2 separate regions of the Homo sapiens genome follow, and region 2 is linked to region 1. The links come from fine-mapping of genetic effects on gene expression. A gene starts in region 1. The other region holds a variant in brackets. All regions are shown on one strand. Distances are between the middles of the regions.

What was found. PIP is the estimated chance that this variant, and not a neighbour inherited with it, causes the effect.
Region 2: its variant is fine-mapped to the expression of DPH2 in whole blood (TOPMed, PIP 0.98).

What each region holds. Positions count from the first base shown.
Region 1 is chr1:43,966,706-43,972,069 of GRCh38, forward strand. It overlaps DPH2 (diphthamide biosynthesis 2), which reads left to right and starts at 3,305. Exons shown (of 6, transcript NM_001384.5): 1 at 3,305-3,617; 2 at 3,891-4,003; 3 at 4,261-4,484; 4 at 4,682-5,364. The coding sequence starts at 3,471. It overlaps IPO13 (importin 13), which reads left to right. Exons shown (of 20, transcript NM_014652.4): 17 at 19-77; 18 at 225-314; 19 at 610-791; 20 at 881-1,317. The coding sequence ends at 977. RefSeq lists enhancers at 3,336-3,615, 4,101-4,647, 4,648-5,192, 4,978-5,364.
Region 2 is chr1:43,945,542-43,950,905 of GRCh38, forward strand. It overlaps IPO13 (importin 13), which reads left to right and starts at 1,409. Exons shown (of 20, transcript NM_014652.4): 1 at 1,409-2,143; 2 at 3,876-4,612. The coding sequence starts at 2,060. It overlaps LOC101929609 (a long non-coding RNA gene), which reads right to left and starts at 1,058. Exons shown (of 2, transcript NR_188535.1): 1 at 940-1,058. RefSeq lists a silencer at 1,205-1,454. The variant C/G (reference allele first, on the strand shown) is at 2,914.

The sequences.
Region 1 (5,364 bases):
CCTCTGCCTTTCCCACAGCTGTGCTGGCCCTCAAGTTCCCTGAGGCACCTACTGTCAAGGCCTCCTGTGGCTTCTTTGTGAGTCCCATGCTGAACCCTGACCCACTGCCACCCCAGTGCCCTCCCCTGCCCAGGACTTCAGACAGTAGGGCTGGGGTGTACAGGTCTTGTCCTCAGGGAGAGCTGGGAAGGAGCTGGGCTGATGGGCCTCTCCATCCTCTGCAGACAGAGCTGCTGCCTCGGTGTGGGGAAGTAGAGTCTGTGGGAAAGGTGGTACAGGAAGACGGTCGTATGCTGCTCATAGCAGTGCTGGAGGTGAGACGGAGCAAAGGGGGGTTTGATGGGGGTGAGGGCCCCTCACTGCTGAGGCAGCTGGCCTTCTGGGAGGCTTGAGCCTTTGGTCCCCTAAGCTCTCAGATTCTGTTTCTTCTTCAATTAAATGCCTGAAAGTTGTTAGGATTGCTGTGGGGATCAGCTGGCTCTCAAAAAGCAGCGCTCACTGTGATGTGCAGTTTGGCTTAGGAACTGTCCAGAGGGCAGTTAGGCATTCTTGCTGCAGAAGCGGCGGAAGGGGCAACACCCTGGTGTGCTGAGAACCCCTCTCCCTCAGGCCATTGGGGGCCAGGCCTCCCGCAGCCTCATGGACTGCTTTGCCGATATCCTGTTCGCCCTGAACAAGCACTGCTTCAGCCTCCTGAGCATGTGGATCAAGGAGGCCCTGCAGCCACCTGGTTTCCCCTCTGCCCGCCTCAGCCCTGAACAGAAGGATACCTTCAGCCAGCAGATCCTTCGGTGAGCAGAGCTGGGGTGGGCCTGGGGTCAGGCAGAGAGGGGGCAGTGGTGGTGGCTGGTGCTAACCTGCTCTCCCTTTTCTCCTTCAGCGAGCGAGTGAACAAGAGGCGGGTGAAGGAGATGGTGAAGGAGTTCACACTGCTGTGCCGGGGTCTCCATGGCACAGATTACACAGCTGACTACTGAGGGGTGCCCCCATCCCATCCACCCCTTCTCTTCATCCTTCCCTATTCCCAAAGAGTAAACCTGGACCCTCACTGCTGTCTCTGCCTCCTTTCTGCTGTCACCACCACCTAACTGAAAGCCTGGGTCCAGAAGGCCTGGGGGAAGGATGGGAGGATGCTTGGACCCAGGCCTTGGGAGGGAATGGTGGGAACATCCTCTAGCTCCCAGGTTGGAAGAGATACTACTGTAGCCAAGCCACCTAGGCTGGAGCCCTTCAGAATACTGTCATTGTCCTTGGGGCGGGGTGGTTGCAGTAGTGTCATCAACCCCCCCATCCCCATTAAATTAATCCCAACATGCATGTATGCATACATTTATTTAATCAACACCGCCGAATATTAGGCCCCTAGCTCTGTCCTGCGTCGTTCTGCCCTGAACAAAGGTTGATCTAGTCCATAGCTACCATGGAGAATGGTAGGAAGTGAGGGAAGGCTGCATGGAGAAAGTTTTTGACAGGAATAGTAGGCTTTCTAGGTAGAGGACTTGAGACTTTGGGCTGCAAGTGGGGTAGGGCTGGGTCCGTTTAGGAAGGAAGAAATGGAGTGGAGTTTTGACTTCCGGGAGGGGTTTCTGGTGTGGAGTTATACAACATCGAACTTGCATATGGTTGAGGAGGGCTATAGAAAGGGGCTGAGTGTGTGTGTATTGGGGGGTGGGTGGGTGGCAGGGAGGTGAAGGAGAGAAGATATCTCAGCCGCAGAGGAGAAAAGAGGAAAGTAGGACCTAAGGTTGTCCATATGTCCGCTGCTCCCCGCTTACACAGGACCTCCAGCACAGGATGGTCAGGGATCAATCAGCACCAGGGACAGCTCCTGACCTATTCTTGCTTTTCTCCCTTAGCAGTGTTGCCTCCCTTTCTGTCTCCTCAGCTATAGTTTCACCTAGGCTGCCTCTCAGGTACCCCAGGCTTCTCCTCAGTAAGATCTGAAGAGCAGAATGAGTTCTCCCCACTTTTACCCTTGAGCTTTCAATCTCCTTGTGGGTGATGGGGAACTCGTTACTCCCACATTCATCCCACTCCTTCCCTGTTCAATAGATCCGGGTTTGATGCTGGTTGTGCCACAGAATTAGTGTCTTATTACACAAGTAGTCTCTTTGAACCTCAGTTTCCGTATCTGACAGAGGTATGTAAGGAGGGCATTTCAAGTGATGTTGCATGTGGGGGTGTTTGCATATAAGTAAACATGGGGAGTAGAGGGGATGTGAGGGGCTGGAGGGTAGAGGTCTATGTGGTATGCACTGGGGGTATTGCTGGGAAGCAGCAGTGTTTGAGGATGGCTGGAGCTGTGCAGAGCATCTCCTGTGACTTGAGGATGTGCCAGTCATGTCCTTGGTACCACTCGGGATAATTCTTACTCCAAAGACTGTAAACACTAAAAATGAAGTGCCTAATGTACAGTAAGTGCTCAGTATTTGGCTGATTAAATAGCAAATGCTTTCACTGCATGCGATATCCAAAGAACTACTTTGTAAAGTTTTGTATATAAATTAATTAGACCCTCACAACAATCTTATTAAGAGGTACTATTGTCACAACTCCCCATTCTTCAGATAAGGAAATGGGCATAGGGACATTCCTAAGATACTCAGTAGCAAGTGACCAAGCACAATATTCAAACCCGAGCCGGTCGGCACCAAGTTTAAAATTATGCAGTGTAGCCGGGCACGGTGGCTCACGTCTGTACTCTCAGCATTTTGGGAGGCCGAGATGAGTGGATTGCTTGAGTTCAGGAGTTTGTGACCAGTCTGAGCAACATGGCAAAAACCTGTCTCTACAAAAAATACAAAAATTAGCTGGATGTGGTGGTGCGCCTGTAGCCCCAACTACTCAAGAGGCAGAGGTGGGAGGATGGCTTCAGTCCAGGAGGTGAAGGTTGTGGAGATCGCGCCACTGCACTCCAGTCCAAGCAACATAGCGAGACCTTGTCAAAAAAAAAAAAAAATGAATGAATGAAAGAATTATGCAGTGATACTGCCCAGAGGATAGAGTGCACGTGAAATGCTTAACAGTGAAGTCGGTGTTCCTGATGGCCGCGGGTCGGCTGAACCGGACTCCCAGCGCCCGAGAGGAGGCCAGGGGAACTACAATGCCCACAAGGCTCCGCGCCTTCCTCGATGTACTTCCGGCTGGCCTGGGACTCAGGCTGAACATTGGTTCTCTGTGCGGGGCGGTGGCGGGGATTGGAGGGCGGGAGCTGTGCTGACTTAGGATTGGCAAAATCGCTATCAGCCACGCCTCTAAAACCCGGAAGTAACCTCCCCGGTAGTCCCACGTGTAGCGGAGAAACAGTAGTTAGGATGGCTGAAGGGGATACTCACCGGCTGAAGGCCGACTGTGATTCCCCCTACCCCCACAAGGCGATTTTGACCCCCTGAGGGCTGCTCTAGAGGACTCAGGCCCCGAAGCTGTCCCAGGGAGGTCCCCGCTGCATCCCACCACCCAAGCTGTGCCTCATGGAGTCGATGTTTAGCAGCCCTGCCGAGGCGGCGCTGCAGCGAGAGACCGGGGTGCCAGGACTGCTTACTCCTCTTCCGGACCTGGACGGAGTGTACGAGCTGGAGCGAGTCGCTGGATTTGTCCGCGACCTGGGGTGTGAACGAGTGAGGACAGACTTAGGGAAGGGTGGCTCGCCTCTGTCGGGATGGGTCGCCCAGAGGATCCGGATCTTGGGGGATTTTGTGAGGGCGAGAGGGTGGGGGAATCAGTCTGTCCGCAGCGCGTTGACCATCCCTCCCTTCCACCTACTACGTGGGGCAGAGTGCCCCTCTGGGACCAGGGGCTTTGAAGGTTGAGTGGGAGCTCCTGGAAGATTGCTTTAAAGAAGCCCTCAGTGGGAGAGAGGCTGTCCCTGACTCCATGGTTTATGCTTATAGGTTGCCTTGCAGTTCCCTGACCAGCTATTGGGAGATGCTGTGGCTGTGGCTGCACGACTGGAGGAGACGACAGGGTCAAAGATGTTCATTCTGGGTGACACAGCCTACGGCAGGTGTGAACTTGGCCTTAGGTGGGCCAGGCCTGGGGATCCGGGGCTCATGGGGTTTTACGTCTATGACAGTGATTGCCTTCAATGGTGGTGTTTCTCCTTGATGATAATGGTAATGACTCCCCTTCTGATGCTAGCTCCTTTCATTGACAATGTCTTCCTTTAATGAAACCATTTTATTCACTGACCACATTTCCCAGTGATGACAGCAACTCGCCTCCAGAAGAGAACCCATTTCTCTGATGCTATCTTCCCTGCAGCTGCTGCGTGGATGTGCTGGGTGCTGAGCAAGCTGGAGCTCAGGCTCTCATACATTTTGGCCCTGCCTGCTTAAGCCCTCCAGCCCGCCCACTGCCCGTTGCCTTCGTGCTTCGTCAACGTTCTGTGGCCTTGGAGCTCTGTGTCAAGGCCTTTGAGGCCCAGAACCCAGACCCCAAAGCGCCTGTGGTGCTGCTGAGTGAGCCGGCCTGTGCCCATGCCCTGGGTAAGGGGTTTTGCCTGTGTATGCACAAAGGGTGAGCCAACTGCTTTATGCCTTAATTTCCCCATTTCCATATACCATCCATAGAACTCTTGATATGGGCTTGGCCCCAGCCTACTGGGTCATATTTAGTCTCCTGGGGATGAGGGAGCTCCTGCTTTGCCAGGCTCCAACCTCAACACTACCTCCTTCTCTTCCAGAGGCTTTGGCTACTCTCCTGCGCCCACGGTACCTGGACCTGCTAGTCTCCAGCCCAGCTTTTCCCCAACCAGTGGGTTCCCTGAGTCCAGAGCCTATGCCCCTAGAGCGTTTTGGGCGCCGCTTCCCCCTTGCCCCAGGGAGGCGTCTAGAAGAGTATGGTGCCTTCTATGTAGGGGGCTCTAAGGCCAGCCCTGACCCAGACCTTGACCCAGACCTGAGTCGGCTGCTCTTGGGGTGGGCACCAGGTCAACCCTTCTCCTCCTGCTGTCCAGATACAGGGAAGACTCAGGATGAGGGTGCCCGGGCTGGACGGCTAAGGGCACGAAGACGATATCTGGTAGAGAGGGCCAGAGATGCCCGCGTGGTAGGGCTGCTGGCAGGCACACTGGGTGTAGCCCAACACCGTGAGGCACTGGCCCACTTGCGGAACCTGACTCAGGCTGCTGGCAAGCGTAGCTATGTGTTGGCCCTGGGGCGGCCCACCCCTGCCAAGCTTGCCAACTTCCCTGAGGTGGATGTCTTTGTGCTATTAGCCTGTCCTCTGGGTGCTCTAGCCCCCCAGCTTTCTGGTAGCTTCTTCCAGCCTATACTGGCACCATGTGAGCTGGAAGCTGCCTGCAACCCTGCCTGGCCACCTCCAGGCCTGGCTCCCCACCTCACACATTATGCGGACTTATTGCCT
Region 2 (5,364 bases), 21 kb before region 1:
TAATTTTTTGTATTTTTAGTAGAGACGGGGTTTCACCGTGTTAGCCAGGATGGTCTCGATCTCCTGACCTCGTGATCCGCCCGCCTCAGCCTCCCATAGTGCTGGGATTACAGGCGTGAGCCACCGCGCCCGGCCTACTTGCTATTCTTTATTGATGAAGACTTGCTGAATGACTTAGAGTCCTACTGGATTTTGCTTACCAGCTAAATGGGCCCCTCTCCTTCCCAGGCTCTCTATTCTTCAAGCTCAGATCAAGTTTCTCTTCTCAGGGAAGCCTTCATGGACCTTCTCAGGCCTCAGCAGCTGCTGCCAATGCCAGCTTCCAATGCCAGCTTCCTCCATTTGAACAAAACTACGGAGCTCTTTGCACTTTTAATTTTTTCCTCTTCCCTGCTAGGGTAGCTGGCAGGAGTTAATAAACAATAAAATACAACTGGAGGGGTGACAGGCAGGAACTACCGGGGCCTGTGGCAGACCAGATCTATGGCATGGTCTGCCACCCTGTCTGTGTGCCAGGGGCAAGATAAGCCTAACTTTCCCCAAGCTCGATTTCCTCATCTCATCTGAAAATGATGAATAAAAATATCCACCTCAGAGCTATTAAGAAAACTGAACCTAAGGTAAGCAAAGTCCTGCTCCTAGCACTTAAATGTAAGCTACTCTTACTCTAGTTACACATAAAGTTACTTCCAAAAACCTTACGAAATTCCCCGAGCACTGTCCATGGTATGTGGTTTCCCGGTTGCTTATTGGGTGGTCCCGAGAGCCTTCCTTTTTTCCTTCCTGAGGCGTGCCAAGTCCCCTCTCCTCTTCTCTGGGTGGTGCTGACGCCTTCTTCCCAGGCTGCACCTTTGCTGGGCCGGAGGATGCCCCCGGCAGCGGAGCGCCAGAGTGACCAGGCAACCTCCCCAGCCTCCACCCTCTAGCCCGGGCTCCCACCTCCGTCCTCCGGCCCCTCGAGTCACGTCGTCCTACTAAGGAGTTGGGCCGCAGCGCCCCGCGCCGGTCTGACCCGGAATGCCTGCTCGCCGCGGTAGGCCGAGGACAGGCGGGGCTCTGCAGGTCCCCAACCCACGTGCTCCCGGCCTCCTCCGCAGGGCGCCGCCTTCCGGCTAGGCGCAACACGGACTACATTTCCCAGGGTGAACAGCGGCGGGGCCTAGACTCGGCCGCGGCCTGGGGCGGCGAGCCGCTCCACCGCCTGCTCAGGGGAGTGCGAGCTGGCGCGAGGACAGGGCTAAGGACCCGGAATGAGTTTCCGCGCAGTTCCGCTGGGCCGTGCCGGCCTGTACCGGGCCGTGCCGAGCCAGAACTGGCAGGAGTGGGGGCCTGAGTTGGAGGTGCCGGGGACAGGCGCTCGGGGCAGCCCGCGCCTTGCCGAGGTCCCTGCCCCGTCCCGGCCGGCCTGGCTTGTCTTGTCAGTCACTGGGGCGGAGGCAGCGGCTGTAGCGGGGCTGTAGCCGGGCGTTGAGCACAGCGCGGGCCAGGCCGAACGGAAGGGACCTGCCACAGCCCCTCAACTCCACGGACTCTTCGCCCTAGACTAGCGGAGCTGCATCTCCGCGCTTCGTTGGACGCCTCCGTAACCACGAAGGGCTCTCTCTCTCCCGTGACCCTCCAGCCCCATGACCTGTTCATAGCAGCCGAGAGCTCACCCAGGCGGGGGTGTTGTGGGTACAGGCCATCGACCCTGTGACCCCTCAAGAGCCAGGGACTCGGTTTCCCCCGCAGGCCTCCCTCCCCTGTGACTCCCTCCACACAGATTCTGGGGACAGAGCTGTTACCTGCCACTAGGATCCCCGCCTGAGAGCTCCTCACTGACGGCTCCCTCCTCGGAGTCCCCTTCATTGGGTCTCCTAAGAGCACCAATTTTGGTCTCTGGCAAGCCTCCCACCCCCAAACGAGGTGGGGAGGCCTCGGCAGCCATGCCCGCCCTGGGCCCCCCCTCACCCCACCACTCCCTGGGCACCCAAGCCGGGGTCTAGCAGGGGGCCAGCAGCCAAGGGGCTGGGGCAGGAGACAGATCAGGGCCCACCTCCCTGCCAGGGAGGGAGCAAAGATGGAGCGGCGGGAGGAGCAGCCGGGGGCTGCAGGGGCTGGAGCAGCACCAGCCTTGGACTTCACTGTGGAGAACGTGGAGAAGGTATGAGGGCTCTGGGGTGGGCACTCCAGTGACAGAGCAGAAGTTCTGGGGACTGTCACTGATGGCAGAGCTCAGGCCTGGGCTGGGTGCCCGCTGGTATGGTGCCCCCAGAGCACCTGGCATTTGCTCTCTTTCTGGGCAGGCAGTATTGCAGTGCCCTAATGGGCTATTTTTGTCTTTCCTTACAGGCAGGTCCCCTGTGGATAGATACTCTAGGGTCTTGGGATGGTCCCTTCAGGGTGCTGTGACTTAGCCTTCCGTCCAGACTGGCTATGTTCCAGCTCCATGGGAACTGCATGAGCAGTGCAGTAGGAAACTGGGAACCCAGGAGACCTGCAGCTCAGTCTCCTGGAATTATACTGATGCCAAACCATCCTGGACCTGGTTTTGTTGAGCCAAGGGCTCAGAAAATAATCTGGAACTAAAACAATCTGGGTTGTTTTGACTCTTTGGAGAAGGGTCCTTCCTTTATTGGATGGAAGCCAGACCAGTCCTGAGCAGGCAGGCCTGGGGCTGTCTCCCTTTGTTTTGTGCTGAGTCCAAGGGTCCTGGCCCTGCTGGGAGCCTTACAGGGCTCCTCCCTACTCGCCTGCCCACATAGCTCCCTGCCATGGCCCTCCCAGGCTCCCCGACTGCCCAGCCCATCTTTCTGAACTGCCTCTTTGGTTCTTTTCTGTATCTGCTCCCTACAACTTGAAATGCAGGAATGCATGCACCCTGGGATGAATGGGGAGATGGGGCTCCCTTACTTGAAAGCAGGGAATGATGTT[C/G]ACTTGTTATCCTTAACCCCCGTTTGCCATAACAAACAATGAGGATGCATCTCTTCTGCCTGCTTTGGCGTCCCTGAGGGGCCAAACAAGGGCCAATGGCCATAACTGGCTGTCAGGGGTACAAATAGAGCTAAGCTTACTTGGATGGAGCCTGCTTAGGGGTCAGGGTCCTGGCCATACTCTTCCGCCCCTTGGAGCAGGGCAGTGTTGGCATGGTGGCGCACTGTTCCATGTGCTATTGGGAGATAAATCTCACTGTTTTCTTACTTCATAAAGTCCCGTTGGAATTGAGACCCCGGGGATTCTGCTAGTGGAGAGCACTAAGCTAGGTGTTTGCCAGGGCTGCAGCTATGGCCAAGGCTTCTCTGGATCAATTGGTTGGACATGTGCCCTCTGAGGAGTGTTCTCACCCTCTCCTCCAGCATGTCTGCCCCAGGGCTGCCTGGCAAAAGTCTTAGTCCTGCTCTGATTTCACACTGGCTTTGGTGCCAGCATCTGGACTGACCTAGGGATGATCCTGGGGGAGCTGAAAGGAGCTGTTGGAGTTGATGGGAGCAGCTGTGCCTGGGAGGGTCAAGTCCCCTCAAGCTGTTCCATGCCCTTCTCAGACTTAGCTTCATCCCTGTGAAGCTGTTCCTTCCACCTGGGCCTTGCCCTCAAGTGCCTCCCCTTTGGGGAGATCAGCCTCCTCTTTTTTGCTTTCCTGTGGAGATTCCCTCTCTGAACCCATAATGTTTTGCTGTAAGGAGAAGAGGATATGGTAGAGCATGGGCAAGGTTCAGGCTCTCAAGATATCAGCAGGACCCCAGGCCCAGGAAACACTGCAGAGCGCTGAGCTCTCCCTGCTCAGCCCCCCAGTCAGGGAGAGGGAGCAGCCTTGCAGGACCAAGTCACGCCTCTGTTCTGGGCTCTGGCAGGATCCAGAGTGGCCAGCACCTGCTCAGTCCTGTGCTGTCCTGCAGGCGCTGCACCAGCTCTACTATGATCCCAACATTGAGAATAAGAACCTGGCTCAGAAGTGGCTGATGCAGGCCCAGGTCTCCCCACAGGCCTGGCACTTCAGCTGGCAGCTACTGCAGCCCGACAAGGTACCAGAGATCCAGTACTTTGGGGCCAGTGCTCTTCACATCAAGATCTCTCGCTACTGGAGTGACATCCCCACTGACCAGTATGAAAGCCTAAAGGCACAGCTCTTCACCCAGATCACCCGCTTTGCCAGTGGCTCCAAGATTGTACTGACTCGGCTGTGCGTGGCACTGGCCTCACTGGCTCTCAGCATGATGCCTGACGCTTGGCCATGTGCTGTGGCAGATATGGTACGACTCTTCCAGGCTGAGGACTCACCAGTGGATGGGCAGGGCCGCTGCCTAGCCCTGTTAGAGCTGCTGACAGTGCTGCCTGAGGAGTTCCAGACCAGTCGCCTACCCCAGTACCGCAAAGGCCTGGTGCGGACCAGCCTGGCGGTGGAATGTGGGGCTGTCTTCCCGCTGCTGGAGCAGCTGCTACAGCAGCCCAGCTCACCCAGCTGTGTGCGTCAGAAGGTGCTCAAGTGTTTCTCCAGCTGGGTGCAGCTGGAGGTGCCGCTGCAGGACTGTGAGGCGCTCATTCAGGCTGCCTTTGCTGCTCTGCAGGACTCGGAGCTCTTCGACAGCAGTGTGGAGGCCATTGTGAATGCCATCTCACAGCCTGATGCCCAGAGGTGAGCTAGTACCCACTCACCCAGAAGACAACCTCTTTGGCCAGCCACACATCCATCCATCCATCTGTTCAATAAACATTAATTGAATGTGTACTGATACCTGGTCCTATGCTGGAGATACAGCAAGGAACCAAAGAAGACATGGTCCCTGTCCTCATGGTTCAGACAGGGAGGCAGACATTAAACAACTAATTATCAGTTATTCAATTAAAATATTTGACTCTCTTTTCCTTCTCTCAACTAGTCACCAAGTCCTGGCTGTTCCCCTCCTGACCATATTGCAAATCTATTTTTTTCCATTTCCATTGCTACCACCTTAGTCCAAGCTGTCATCATCTCTCTCCCCAGATTACTGTAGAGCTTGTCCTCACTCTTGTACCCTTCATTGTCCCAGCAGCCACAGTGATCTTTTGAAAATGGGGATCTAATCTTTCTGATCAGAAGCTTTCAGTGGCTTCTCAATGCTCTTAGGTTAAAGCTCAGAATCCTTAATGTGACTCATAATGGTGCTGCACAGTATGGCATCACTGGCCTCATCTCATGCTACTCTCCTTGCTCTCTACACGCTCACACAGTTTCTTTAATTCCTTGAATGTCCCATGTTCCTTTCAGCCTCTGGCTCATTACATATACTTGACACCTTGCCTCAGCTTAAACTTCATTTCCATAGGGAAGTCCTCCATGGATTCTTAAGGCTAAGTTTGATCTTCTCTCTTATATTACCTCAGAGCTCCCAGTATTTTTCCTTCTTA